Linked DNA regions of Homo sapiens: all the other regions are reported to be linked to region 1. Evidence: microRNA targets listed by miRTarBase, many of them from high-throughput screens and not tested one by one. Region 1 holds a microRNA gene; each other region holds the end of a gene's coding sequence.
What was found. The annotated mature microRNA hsa-miR-3135b reads GGCUGGAGCGAGUGCAGUGGUG and lies in region 1 at 1,551-1,572, shown strand. An mRNA with a match to its seed (bases 2 to 7 or 8) in the 3' UTR can be bound and repressed. Matches are read on the target gene's strand: a 7mer-m8 pairs with bases 2 to 8, a 7mer-A1 pairs with bases 2 to 7 and ends in A, and an 8mer does both.

Region 2: the mRNA of TUBD1 is a reported target of hsa-miR-3135b. Seed matches in the 3' UTR shown: 7mer-m8 at 3,189-3,195.
Region 3: the mRNA of ACP6 is a reported target of hsa-miR-3135b. Seed matches in the 3' UTR shown: 7mer-m8 at 1,349-1,355.

Annotation. Positions count from the first base shown.
Region 1 is chr6:32,747,276-32,751,523 of GRCh38, reverse strand. It overlaps MIR3135B (microRNA 3135b), which reads left to right and starts at 1,545; the gene lies at 1,545-1,612.
Region 2 is chr17:59,856,873-59,861,120 of GRCh38, forward strand. TUBD1 (tubulin delta 1) reads right to left here. Exons shown (of 9, transcript NM_016261.4): 9 at 2,607-3,552. The coding sequence ends at 3,450. Among named protein-coding and RNA genes, the nearest start is that of MIR21, 18 kb to the left of the region's middle.
Region 3 is chr1:147,643,675-147,647,922 of GRCh38, forward strand. ACP6 (acid phosphatase 6, lysophosphatidic) reads right to left here. Exons shown (of 10, transcript NM_016361.5): 10 at 1-3,892. The coding sequence ends at 3,749. Among named protein-coding and RNA genes, the nearest start is that of ACP6, 25 kb to the right of the region's middle.

The sequences.
Region 1 (4,248 bases):
TAAATTTTCCAATTGTTTTTAGCATTCTATTATTACTTTTACAGATCAAGAATTCTAATTAGAATGACTTTAAACTTGTTTGCTGTTACATGAACTTTCTCTATTAAATCTGTGATAATTTTCATGTTATTTTATTCTCATCTTCTCTTTCATATTGTAAGAGTTTCTCAAACATTTGCTCTGGCCTCTTCAACCTTGTCCTTTACCTACTGTATACCACCTTATTTCATCTCAAGATACATTTCTTCAAGCCACTTCTAAACTGCCCCAAACCATACCTGGTCCCTGTGCAACACTCTCTCATTTTACCTCATTCTTTTTCTTTATAAATGTTTCAGACCTTGTAACTATGTTTGTGGAATTATGTAATATATGTATTTTCCTCCCACTGGAGTGTAAGTTCTATGAAGATAATGAATGTAATTGTTTTCACATTATTTTAATAACATTCAACAAACTATGAGTACTTATTGTAGCACTGGTACTCAATGACCATTTTTGCATTTTTGATGAATTAGTGAATATATAAACAAGTCTGGGGGCTTAGTCCAGCCAATAATAAAGCAAGCATTACTTTGCTTTCCTTTGTTATTATTAGTTCCTGCATACACATTCTTTATAGTTGCATTCCTGAGAGGTTCTTACAGTCTTGGGCAGGCCTTGGACAGGGTTTCCTAAATGTGATAAAAATGAGAAAAACTGAAAAACTAACATAACTTCAAACAGAATGCTTGTCTGCCTATGTTTATGGGACTTTCCTGAATACATTTAAAAAAAAAACCTTTGTATTACAGAAAATTTCAACTGTGTGCAATAGTACAGAGAAGAATTCCATGTATCAACAGCCTTGCTTTAACAATAATCAATTCATGAGCAATTTTGTAAACCCACCCAGTTATCATACAGGCACATACTGGATTATTTTGAAGATATTTTTAGGTATCATATTTCATTTATACATTTTTATTATGAAAATCTAAAATATAATGGCTTTTTAGAAACATAACAGCAATGCCACTAACACATTTAAAACGAGATAAATAATTCCTTAATACACTCAGTGTCAATTTTTCTGATTGCCTCATATAAATTTTTTAACAGATGTTTTGTTTGAATATGAATCTAGACAAAGCTCAGCGTTTGGTTACTATATTTCTTCAGTCTTTTTCAAGTGTATAGCTTTTCTTTTCTCTATTTTTAACTTTTTTTGCAAATTGTTTGCTGGAGAAATCTTTTTATTTAATCTAGTAGAACTTCTCATATTCTGAATTTTGTTGCTTACATCCTTGTGGTGTCATTCATCATGGGATTTTGTCTTGGACTCCAGAAAATAACAATAACACAAATTTGTTAACTTCTATAAACTGCTTACTATGGGCCAGACTGTGTGTGAAGTGCTTTATTTGTAATGTTTAATTCTTCATATCTCTAGTTTGTATGTGGTAAGTACAAACCTGAAATATTTTACGTGATTTTTACGTTTTGTAATTTTTATTTATTTATTCATTTATTTATTTATTTTTAGAGACGGGGTCTCGCTGTGTTGCCCAGGCTGGAGCGAGTGCAGTGGTGCAGTCAGTCCTAGCTCACTGCAGCCTCGAACTCCTGGGCTCAAGCAGCAATCCTCCTGCCTCAGCCTCCCTACTAGCTGGGACTACAGACTGGTCTCCATCTCCTGGGCTTTAAGGGACCCTCACCTTGTGCTGAGATTACAGGCATGAACCATTGTGACTGGAAATTTTGTAAAATTTAAACAATGTGATATTACCTATTAATGAAGTCATACTTTATGTATGTAATCTGAAATAATTCAGATAACAATTTTTAAGAATCATTTAATTTAAAATCATGCAGCCTGATTTATAACTGTTTATAATAATAATATAATAATATAATAATGATGATTTCACTTTGAACTTTTAGCTGATAAAAAGATATATTTGCTCTATTTTATAAAACTAATTTTAGCTATGCTATTTTAACATTATATAAATACTTTTTGAATACATTCTTTCAGTAAAATCCAACTACCATTATATTTGCTTTCCTCAGTATTTCTTGGGGAAGGATTCTAAATAGGGGAGCATTTGTGTATTTCTGTATGACTCTGGTTATAATGCCATTCAATGTAAGCCTTACACACACACACACACACACACACACACACACACACACACAAATGCACACACCTCCAGAATGCTGGGTTCTTGGCTCATGAATCATTGAAATTTATATAAAATTTATTTTAAATCCTATTGCAGAAAAGTTCTTAGCACATTCATGCATTTTCATGTGACCATTTTTATACTACAGTTTTAATTTTATATATTTGGGATCATTATTGTTGACCTTTTCTTTTCTTTTTTTTTAATAGAGTTTATTTTAGAGAAGTTTTAGGTTCCCAGAAAAATTGTAGAGTACAGATAGATGTATCCCATATGCTCTCTGTTCCCACACATGCATAGCCTCCCCCACTAGTAACATCCTTCATGACAGAGGTACATTTGCTACAACTTATGAACTTACACTGACACATCATTATCACCCAAAGTCCATAGTTTATATTAAGGTTCATTCTTGGTGTTGTACATTCTATGGATTTGGGCAAGCGCATAATGATATTTATTCACCATTGTGGTATCAAATAGAGTAGTTTCATTGCCCTAAAAATCCTCTGTGTTCTGTGATGGACGTTTTCATGATCACCACTGGTTCAGATTCCCTGCACTTACTAATTCCCAGTCTGCATTTATAATTATTTTCTCCCGGAGTCTCCCCACCTCCTCCCCAAAGTAAATATGGATAAACTGCTGTTGCATATAATTCACCTTGACTTAAAATTTATGGGACATAAGGAGGGAATATACCCCTTAGAGAGTTAAAAACCGAAGTCAAATATTACAACTTCTTGTCCTAAGAGTTCTCTTAGCAACCCAATCTCAGCCTCTCAAGAAAGAAAAAAATCCTCCAGTTAACATATGAAAAGAAACTCACTTTTACGTCTACGCTTGAATCTCCTAAATCACTAAAGGGCTAAGGAAAACAAATGTACTTTTCATATAATATGATCCATTCTTTTTAATAAATCCATTATAAACATAACTGCAGTGTTTTCTTATATATTTATATACTACGTGTAAGGCACTGTCTATATACCAAGATTATTCAAATTCTGTCAATAACTCTGCAAGGAAAATATTATCACTCCCACATTGTGGATGAGAAAAATAAGGTTCAGAAATGTCAATCAGATACTTTACCCAGTAAAGTTTAAAATACTAGCTTCAAAATACTGAGTCAAGTATTTGGATTTAGGTTTCTTTGTACAAAACTATGCTGTATCAATTATTATGTTAATGTTTTGTCTCTTTTTTTTCTCCTATTACATTTTAAACTCACTGATGCAGATAGCATGGACAGAAATATCCTGGCAGATTTCATAGCTGTTTAGAGCTCTCAGGTCCCTGTGGACCCATTTCCTCTGAGAGATTTTCTATTAGGAGACCACGAATCCAGTGTAGGACACAGCACCCACTACTGCTGCTACATTGTCTCAACTGTCTTGTTCTTCCTAGGATTTCTCTCTCATAGGCTCATGCTTTCCTTAGCCAGGAAGGGGGAGGAGCAGGGGGCTGGGGCCCCTAAATGGGTCTGTAGCTTCTACTTCTATCTGTTTTCCATTGTCACTAACCCTAAGTAAGGAACAAGCATTTGTTCCTTTTCAGATACCCCCTTATATTATTGCCTTATTTTAATATTTTTCTTTTTTAAAAAATTTATTTATATGTATTTATTTATTTTTGAGATGGAGTTTCATTCTGTTGCCCAGGCTGGAGTGCAGTGGCACAATCTTATTGCAACCTCCACCTCCCAGGTTCAAGCGATTTTCCTGCTTCAGCCTCCTGAGTAGCTGGGATTACAGGTGCCCAGCACCATGCCCAGCTAATTTTTGTATTTTTAGTAGAGACAGGGTGTAACCACGTTGGCCAGGCTGGTCTCGAAGTCCTGACCACAAGTGATCTGCCCACTTTGGCCTCCCAAAGTGTTGGGATTATAGGTGTGAGCCACCGTGCCTGGCCTTATTTCAATGTTTTTCTAACTGGCTTCCATTTCTTTTCCTGCCTAGAGAATTTTTATCTCCTCAAGGTGAGAAGGGGAGAGGAAAGCTTCTACTGTTGTCATTCTTCACAAATTTAAAGTTTTGAGAATGCAGTTTGACTTTTGGTAACAAAATTTTTTACTTTTGAT
Region 2 (4,248 bases), not on the chromosome of region 1:
CACTAGTATGTATACTGCAAAGTAGAGTTTATAGAGCCTACAGAGCCAGTGAAGAGACATTTCAACACTTAAGCCTAGCCCAGACCAGAGCTCTGAGTTCATTGTTCTTTCTTTCTTTCTTGGACCACATTCTTTCCTGGAAAAAAGGTGAATATGCACACAGGCAAGATAACAAGCAATAATTAGGAAGCTAGAATTGTAGCACTAAACATCCCAAAAAGCTTCTTCAGACAAGGTAGCATTGATCCCTGTATCCTTAACATCTTCCTCAGTGCCTGGCACTGAATAGATGATACTGGTTGAATGGATGAATTGGCTGATAATAGTGAATTGTTGGCATACTTAGTGAGTTCTAAGTGATGGGTAAAATATAGGAGAAAGATGTTGAAAGATGTTGTAGATTGAATAGTAAGGGTGGATAGGGGAGGGGAGTTTTCGGGGAGATCCCAGGGCTGGAAGTGGCGAATGCATGGGAAAAAACAGGTTCTACAGCTTAAGCTCTTGAGGAAAGATTGGGGAGGTAAGAGAGAAAGAGCTTGACAATAAGAAACAGTATGCATTCACACTGTGCTCATTGTCCACAGGGGTGCATTCTGGCTCTGCAGGATAATGTTTGACAACGTAATGTGCCAGTTATCCCATAATCTAAGAAATTACACTTTCAAAGTTTTCTGGATCTGTATGCCCAGGAGCTAAGGGAGCCAATGTTGTCCTCCTGGCTGACTGGCCATTATCTCCACACAAATCAAAGCACATTTCCAATGCCACTCCATCTGAAGTTTTGACATCAGCATCTTGGTGTTAATTTTTAACTTAAAATCACAACTTTAAGAGCAAAAATTTTGTTATTCCAAGTAGACAAGAAAAAATTATTTTCCATGTGAATGTTTTAACCCAAGCTTTAAAATATTTAGGCATTGGCCAGGTATGGTGGCTCACGCCTGTAATCTCAGCACTTTGGGAGGCCGAGGCAGGTAGATAGCCTGAGCCCAGGAGTTTGAAACCAGCCCAGGCAACATGAGGAAACTTCGTCTCTACCAAAAATACAAAAATTAGCTGGGCATGGTGGTGCACACCTATAGTCCCAGTTATTAGTGAGTCTAAGGTGGGAGGATTGCTTGAGCCTGGGAGGTTGAGGCTGCAGTGAGCTGAGATCATGCTACTGCACTCTAGCCTGGGTGACAGAGCGAGACGCTGTCTCAAAAAAAAAAAAAATACATACACACACACACACACACATATATATGTAATAGGTAACCATACATATCAAATAATGCAGTTGTGGATCATAAAAAAGGGTCAAATAGCATAAGTAAATGGACCCAGAGCTCTGTCTAGTTGGGATTTGCTTCTAATGTTCACCTGCTAATGATTCCACGAGTTGCCAAATTAGAAATATACTTGCCCCTATTGGTACCTCATGAATTTTCTCAAATATCAAATGATTTCAACTTACGACTTTCTTTCAAGTTAACTTCTAGTAAGGTTCCTCAGAATCAGATTAACCCCTGGTGAGATACTCAGTTACAGATCTTCATGAATGCTGGTTTAGTCTGGGAAATTGTTTCAGTCTGTGGATCTCTTCAATGCTTAAACAATTACTTTAACTTGTTTGGTAAAAATTATGATCTAATTATTTTTCAAGTGTACTTGGCTTAACGAAATGCAGCAGCGGGGTGTGCCTTTTAGCAGCAGAACCGACCACTTTTTACATTCCTTACAAATAAGATATGGTTCAGTATTTTAAATCATAGCAACAGTTGATAAGAAAAACAGCAAAAAGGTAATCATTTCCATATGGAAAGAAAAAGAAGAACCAGTGAAGCTGTGAACTGTCATTTTTCCATATAAAAGTCACTATTGGTAGATTTGGCAGAAAGGGCAAATGTTCCTATTTGTTAATCATTTTACATTTGTTAATATATTGCATGTGATGTGTTTTATGGAAATACAACATTCCCTTCAAACTCAGTTGTCAATTTCCAAGCACGTTTTGTCTTGGGTGAAACCCGTATCTTGTGCGTCAATTTCATCAAGTAACTATATTTCCTTGGTGATAATTTTCTCAACTTAGTGAAAAATTTAGGTGAAAATTCTTACCCCTTTTACTGAAAAGCATATAACCATCATCTGTACCAGCTGAATACCTATAAGTAATTTCATTCTTTTTTTTTTTTTTTGGAGACAGTCTTACTCTGTCACCCGGGCTGGAATGCAGAGGCACGATACCAGTTCACTGCAGCCTCGACCTCCCAGGCTCAAGTGATCCTCCCACCCAAACCTCCAAAGTAGCTCAGACCACAAGTGTATGCCACCACACCCAGCTAATTAAAATTTTTTTTTTTTTTTGGAGAGATGGGGGTCTTACTGTATTTCTCAGGCTGGTCTCAAACTCCTGGCCTCAAGTGATCCTCCCACTTTGCCCTCCCAAAGTGTTGGGATTACAGGTGTGAGCCACCATGCCCAGCCCATTATAAGTAATTTTAAAGCAATAATTGAATAAAATCAATATCTGCTCTGGCATTCCAAGATCCAAAACAAAATTTGAGCCAATTTTCTCATGCCCAAAAAGTTTAAGAAAAGCACACTAAGTACACATTTACCTATTTACTTTTGTACTTAAGCATAAGCATTTATTACCAAAATCCTCATATTTATTTTTAAATAGCTGCTTAGAGTGGAAACTTGCCCTGTTACAGAATATTCAAAATACATGTTCACACTGTAGCATTTGACAACATCTCCCTCCTGTGGTTCAAAGCATTCATTTCAAACATGAATATATTAAGTACAGAATTACAATTCCTTAGCTTGAAATTATGCTGTGAAAGTTTGGTTCATGCTTTGTGAGTTGTTTTTGGAGTTGTTTTGGAGTAAAGATTTAGGAACATGTAGACAAAGAGAATATTCTCTTTTCTTGGCTAGTTCCAGAGTCCCAACATTTCAGCAAAGTGTTTCCCCAAAGTTCTTTATAAAAGCACCATTTTTTTTTCTTACAAATGAAATACCAAGTGAATGTTTTCATTGAAAACATGCGATTCTCCATTTTAAAAAGTTTTCTTCCTTTTCTGTGGGCATAGTATGCAGAATAGACTCAGCATTCTACGTGGTTACTTTAACAGAATGGAACTTTGAAAACATTTTTTTTTTTTTTTTTTTTTGAGACGGAGTCTCGCTCTGTCGCCCAGGCTGGAGTGCAGTGGCGCGATCTCGGCTCACTGCAAGCTCCGCCTCCTGGGTTCACGTCATTCTCCTGCCTCAGCCTCCCGAGTAGCTGGGACTACAGGCACCCGCCACCGCGCCTGGCTAATTTTTTGTATTTTCTGGTAGAGACGGTGTTTCACCGTGTTAGCCAGGATGGAGAACTTTGAAAACTTTACAGAGAAAATAGTATTGAAAATATTTTAGTCCAGAAATGCCTTAAGGTATACTTTTCCCATTGTTCAAGATCAGAGATTACAGTAACTGGCAACAACCTGCTCTAATGACGTGAAACTGTCTAAAAAGTCCTCTTCTTCGATTCCAAATTTTGTGTACTGATGAATGTAGGCTCTGGTAGAAAAAAAAAAAAAACAGAAATTACAAAATAAAAAATGTCTGGCAAATGAGTAACTCTTAAACAATAAACAGACCTTTTCTAGCTGATGAACATTTGAAGATCACACAATCGTTCAGAAGTCTTACATTTGCTTTGTTTACTCCAAAGATTAGTGAACTTTCTTTTTTTTTTTTGAGACAGAGTCTTGCTCTGTCACCTAGGCTGGAGTGCAGTGGCATGATCTCGGCTCACTGCAACCTCCACCTCCCAGGTTCAAGCGATTCGACTACCTCAGCCTCCCGAGTAGCTGGGATTACAGGAACGTGCCACCACACCCAGCTAATTTTTGTATTTTTAGTAGAGACGGGGTTTCACCATAATGGCCAGGCTGCTCTGGAACTCCCAACCTTAGGTGATCCACCCGCCTCGGCCTCCCAAAGTGCTGGGATTACAGGTGTGAGCCACCACGCCCAGCCTGAACTTTCAAAATTTATGTCAAGCTCCCTGTTTTTTCAGTGTCCAAAAAACTGGCAAAGGAGAGGCACCCGGGAAAGAGCAGCATGTTCAGATTTGGCTATCTACTCAGTATATATATATATACATATATAACACCCTATATTCAGTATAAACTCTGAAAAGTGCCTGAAAAGTTTCATATAAGCCTTGAAACTAGAAAACACATCAGTCCAGTTCTAGGAATGGAGTGAAGC
Region 3 (4,248 bases), not on the chromosome of region 1:
AAATGTACAAAGTTTCAGTTAAACAGTAGAAATAAGTTTTTGTGATCTAGTGCACAGCATGGTGACCATAGTTCATAACAGTATACTGTTGTCTTAGTCCATTTTGTGTTGCTATAACAGAATACCACAGATGGGGTAATTTGTAATGAACAGAAATTTATTATCTCACAGTTCTGGAAGCTGAGAAGTCCAAGATCAAGGCACCAGAAGGTTAGGGCCTGGTCTCTCTGCTTCAAAGATGGTGCCTGTTGCTGCATCCTCCAGAGAGGAGGAACACTTTGTCATCATATGGCAGAAAAGCAAAAGAGAAGGAACCCATTCCTGCAAGCCCTTTTTATAATGGCATTAATCCATTAAACATCCCCATTAGGCTCCACCTCCCAGTAACATTGTACTGGGCACTAAGTGTCAACATCAAATTTAGAGAAGACAAAAGCACTCAAACCACAGCGACTGTACACCTGAAAACTACTAAAGAGTATATCTGAAACATTTTCACCACAAGAAAGTGATGAGTAGATGAAGTGATGAATATGTTAATTAGCTTGATTTAATCATTCCCTCATGCATACATATATCAAAACATCACATTGTACTCCATAAATATACGCAATTATTATCTGTCAACTAAAAAGAAAGTAAAAAGTTTTTATTACAAAAAAGAAGAAGAATGGTAAGATGGCGAGTATGGCTGGGGTGCAGTGAGATGTCATAGGACCGTGAGGGCATTATGACTGGCCCTTAGTTTGAGATGAGAAACCAATGGGGAATTTAGAGCAGAAGAGTGGCACGATCTTACTTTGTTTTAAAAGCAACACTGTGTTGAGAATAGATGGGCAGAGAAGGGAAGGGCAGAAACAGGAAGACTAGTTACGAGGCCTTTACAATAATCCAGGTAAAAGATGACACTGGGACTAAGACAGTAGCAATGGAAGTATTGGGACATGGTCAATTCTGGATATAGTTTGAAGAGAGATACAACAGGAGTTACTGATGTAGTAGAGGTAGGATATGAGAAAAAGAGGGGAGTCAAGGGCAGTTCTAAAGTTCTTGGCCAAAGCAACAGGGTGAATGGTGGTGTCATTTACCTAGATGGGAAAGCCTGTGGAAGGAGTAAGTTTGAAAAGGCACGGAAATTGAGAGTTTATTGTGGACAATGGGAAGTTTGATACCTATTGTATATCTTAAACATCCAAATAGAGACATTGATTAGACTGTTGGAAATGAGACTGGGATTCACAGGGAAAGGTCTAGGTTGAAGGTATAAATTTAGGAGACATTGTGTAAATATTTAAAACTGGAAATTCTTTTTTTTTTTTTGAGATGTTATTTCTCTCTTGTTGCCCAGGCTGGAGTGCAATGGCACGATCTTGGCTCAGCACAACCTCTGCCTCCTAGGTTGAAGTGATTCTCCTGCCTCAGCCTCCCAAGTAGCTGGGATTACAGGCACATTGTACTCCATAAATAGACACATACAGCCTTCCGAGTAGCTGGGATTACATCACATTGTACTCCATAAATATAATAATTTTATAAAATTATAATAATTTTATAAAAATATAATAATTTTTGTATTTTTAGTAGAGGCAGGTTTAGTGGAGACAGGGTTTTGCCATGTTGGCCAGGCTGGTCTCGAACTCCTGGCCTCAGGTGATCTGCCTGCCTTGGCCTCCCAAAGTGCTGGGATTACAGGCGTGAGCCACCGCGCCCGGCCTCAAACTGGAAATTCTTGAGATCACCTAGTGGGTGAGTGTAGGGGAAAAGGTGGAAAAAAGGTCCAAGGAGTAAGCCCTGGGACACCCCAACACTTACGGATTAGAAAAAGGTAGATTCAGCAGGAACAAAGTCGAGAAATTGGAGGAAAACCAAGAAAGCATTTGTCGAAGCCAGTGAAGGAAATAGTCTAGGAATACTGATGAGAAGCTTAGTAAGAAGAATGAAAACTGGCTATTGGATTCACCACACAAAGGCTATTGATGATTTTGACAAGAGCAGTTTCCATGGAGTGGTGGGGGTGAATACTTAATTGTAGCTGGTTCATGAGAGAACTGGAAGGGAAGAATTAGAGGTAGCAACTCTTTTGAGGAGTTCTGCTATGAAGGGGAGAAGGAAAAGAGAACAGCAGTTCAAAGATGCAGAGAAAAAAGTTTAAGAGATTTTACAGCATATTTGTATTGCTAATAGAATAATTGGTCAGGAAAAAAATTGACAATCCAGAAAAAAGACACTAGGAGTCAATGTAAAGCTAGAGGGTTGGGCTTTGATAGGAATAGTGTTGGTTCATTCTTAGTAAGAGGGAGGAAGGAAGGCTATAAAAGCACCAATGCAACTGGGTTAGCAGATTTGGTGGTTGGGTGTTGGGGGATGTGGAAGTTTTCTTCTGATCTCTTTTAGATTCTTAGTAAAATAGGAAATACAGTAACCAGCAGACTGAGGATGGGAAGGGGATGCTGAAGATTGAGGATAAAGATATGTGAATAGATTAAAGAAATAAACAGGTAGTATTGATAAAACTTAACTGATTAGACATAGGAAAATGTGAGACAAAGAAAACAAAGACAGATTTCTGATTTGGCAACTGGGTGGAGAGTGGAGGTGTCTTTCATTCAGATAGGGAAGTGTGTGGGAGAAGCAGGTCTGGGAGGAGGGGGGTTTGATTCTAACATGGAAAGTTTTGTGCCAGTGAAATCCAAGTGGATAAAAGTGTCTGAAGCTCAGAAGAGAAACCTGAGCTTGAGATATCTCAGCTCCCTGATCTGGAAGTTGTCAATATTAAGATAGTAGGAAGTGGAGAGGCTTTTGTGGTTGCTGTTTTCTCTGAGAGGTAAAGGGACTGGTGGTTTGAAATCAGAGAAGGGTTGAAATAGATTCTGGAGAAGAACAGCAACATTGACAAGGAGATAGGGGGATCATCAGGTACTCTTAGGGGGCACAGTTAAAGGTGGAGCTCTTATGTTGAGTAGTTCCAGCCTTACCATTGCAGAGCCCTGGGGCCCACATTTGTTTCTGGAACTAAAACCACCAGGGGCCCAGTGTCCTTCCTGCTTCTTCCTGCTGAGCCTCCACATCAGGGTTCCATCTCACCACCCAGCAACGTTCCCTGACCTTGAAGCCTATCCTTTATCTAAACGCAACACGCTTTCATCCTTGCTTTCCTGGTTAACTCCTACCCACCTTTCTCTACTCAGATCAGGCCAGGACTTTTTCAGAAGCCTTCCTTGACTGTTCCCCACATCCCCTGCCATGTGAGCAGGAAGTTTCTTCTCTATACCCAAATAGCCCCTCAAATACCTATTACAGCATAAAACATACAGCACTGTATCACTGATTTACTCGGCTGCCTCTCCCACTGGACTGCAACAACTTGAGGGCAGAGTGTTTTCACCTTTATAATGATCACTACTTAGTAGGTAGCTCAATACATGTGAAATTAATATAGGAGAAAAGAACTAAAGTCCAAAACCGACACAATTCTACAGGGTCATGATGTCCCCAGCCCGTGTCACACAAAGATGCTTCTAACCTTAGAAACCAACTCACAAAATAGAGAAATATCCTTTTGGTCTCAATATTATACCCCTTTTCCGTTCAGGAAGAAATCTTAGTAAACCCACAGAAAGGAAATATCCTTACATTATATTAAAGTACATTACCCCTTGCTCTCTCCTCTTCCCAAACACACAAAGCAGGAGGCATTGTATAAAGGCACTTTATTTTAAAATCAACACATCCTGCTTTTATAAATCAGTTACTCTTCATTTCCAACTTCCATCACCTGAGTTTGAGAGCAGAGTGCGTGGTATTTTTCTGGGCTTAAGGTATAAACTGACATGGCATTCAAGAACATGTCCAGCGGGCAGAGCCCATCAGGGCAACCTCTCGGCACCTGCTCCTGCAGAAGAAACATAACTCAGCAGGTCCGCCGAGGAACCTGTCCTTCTGCTATTTCCAGCTAAGCCCAGAGATCTGAGAGGCTCTGATCCATGTGGTATACATGTGCATACATATTACAGACAGGAAGGCCCCACTACCCGGTGAGCTTCCAGAATAAAAGCACTATGCTCTGCTTGTAAAAGTCACTCAAAAAGTGTTGAATTGACTGGGAAGAAAGAGTCGAGTTACATCCCCGAGCTGGGAGAACCAACAGGCTCATCCCTGGGGCGTGCTCTGGCCTCTGCCCTGGACCCCAGCCCTGATGAAGCAGCCAACACCACGGGTGCTAACAGCAGCACACATCACCTCCCAAAG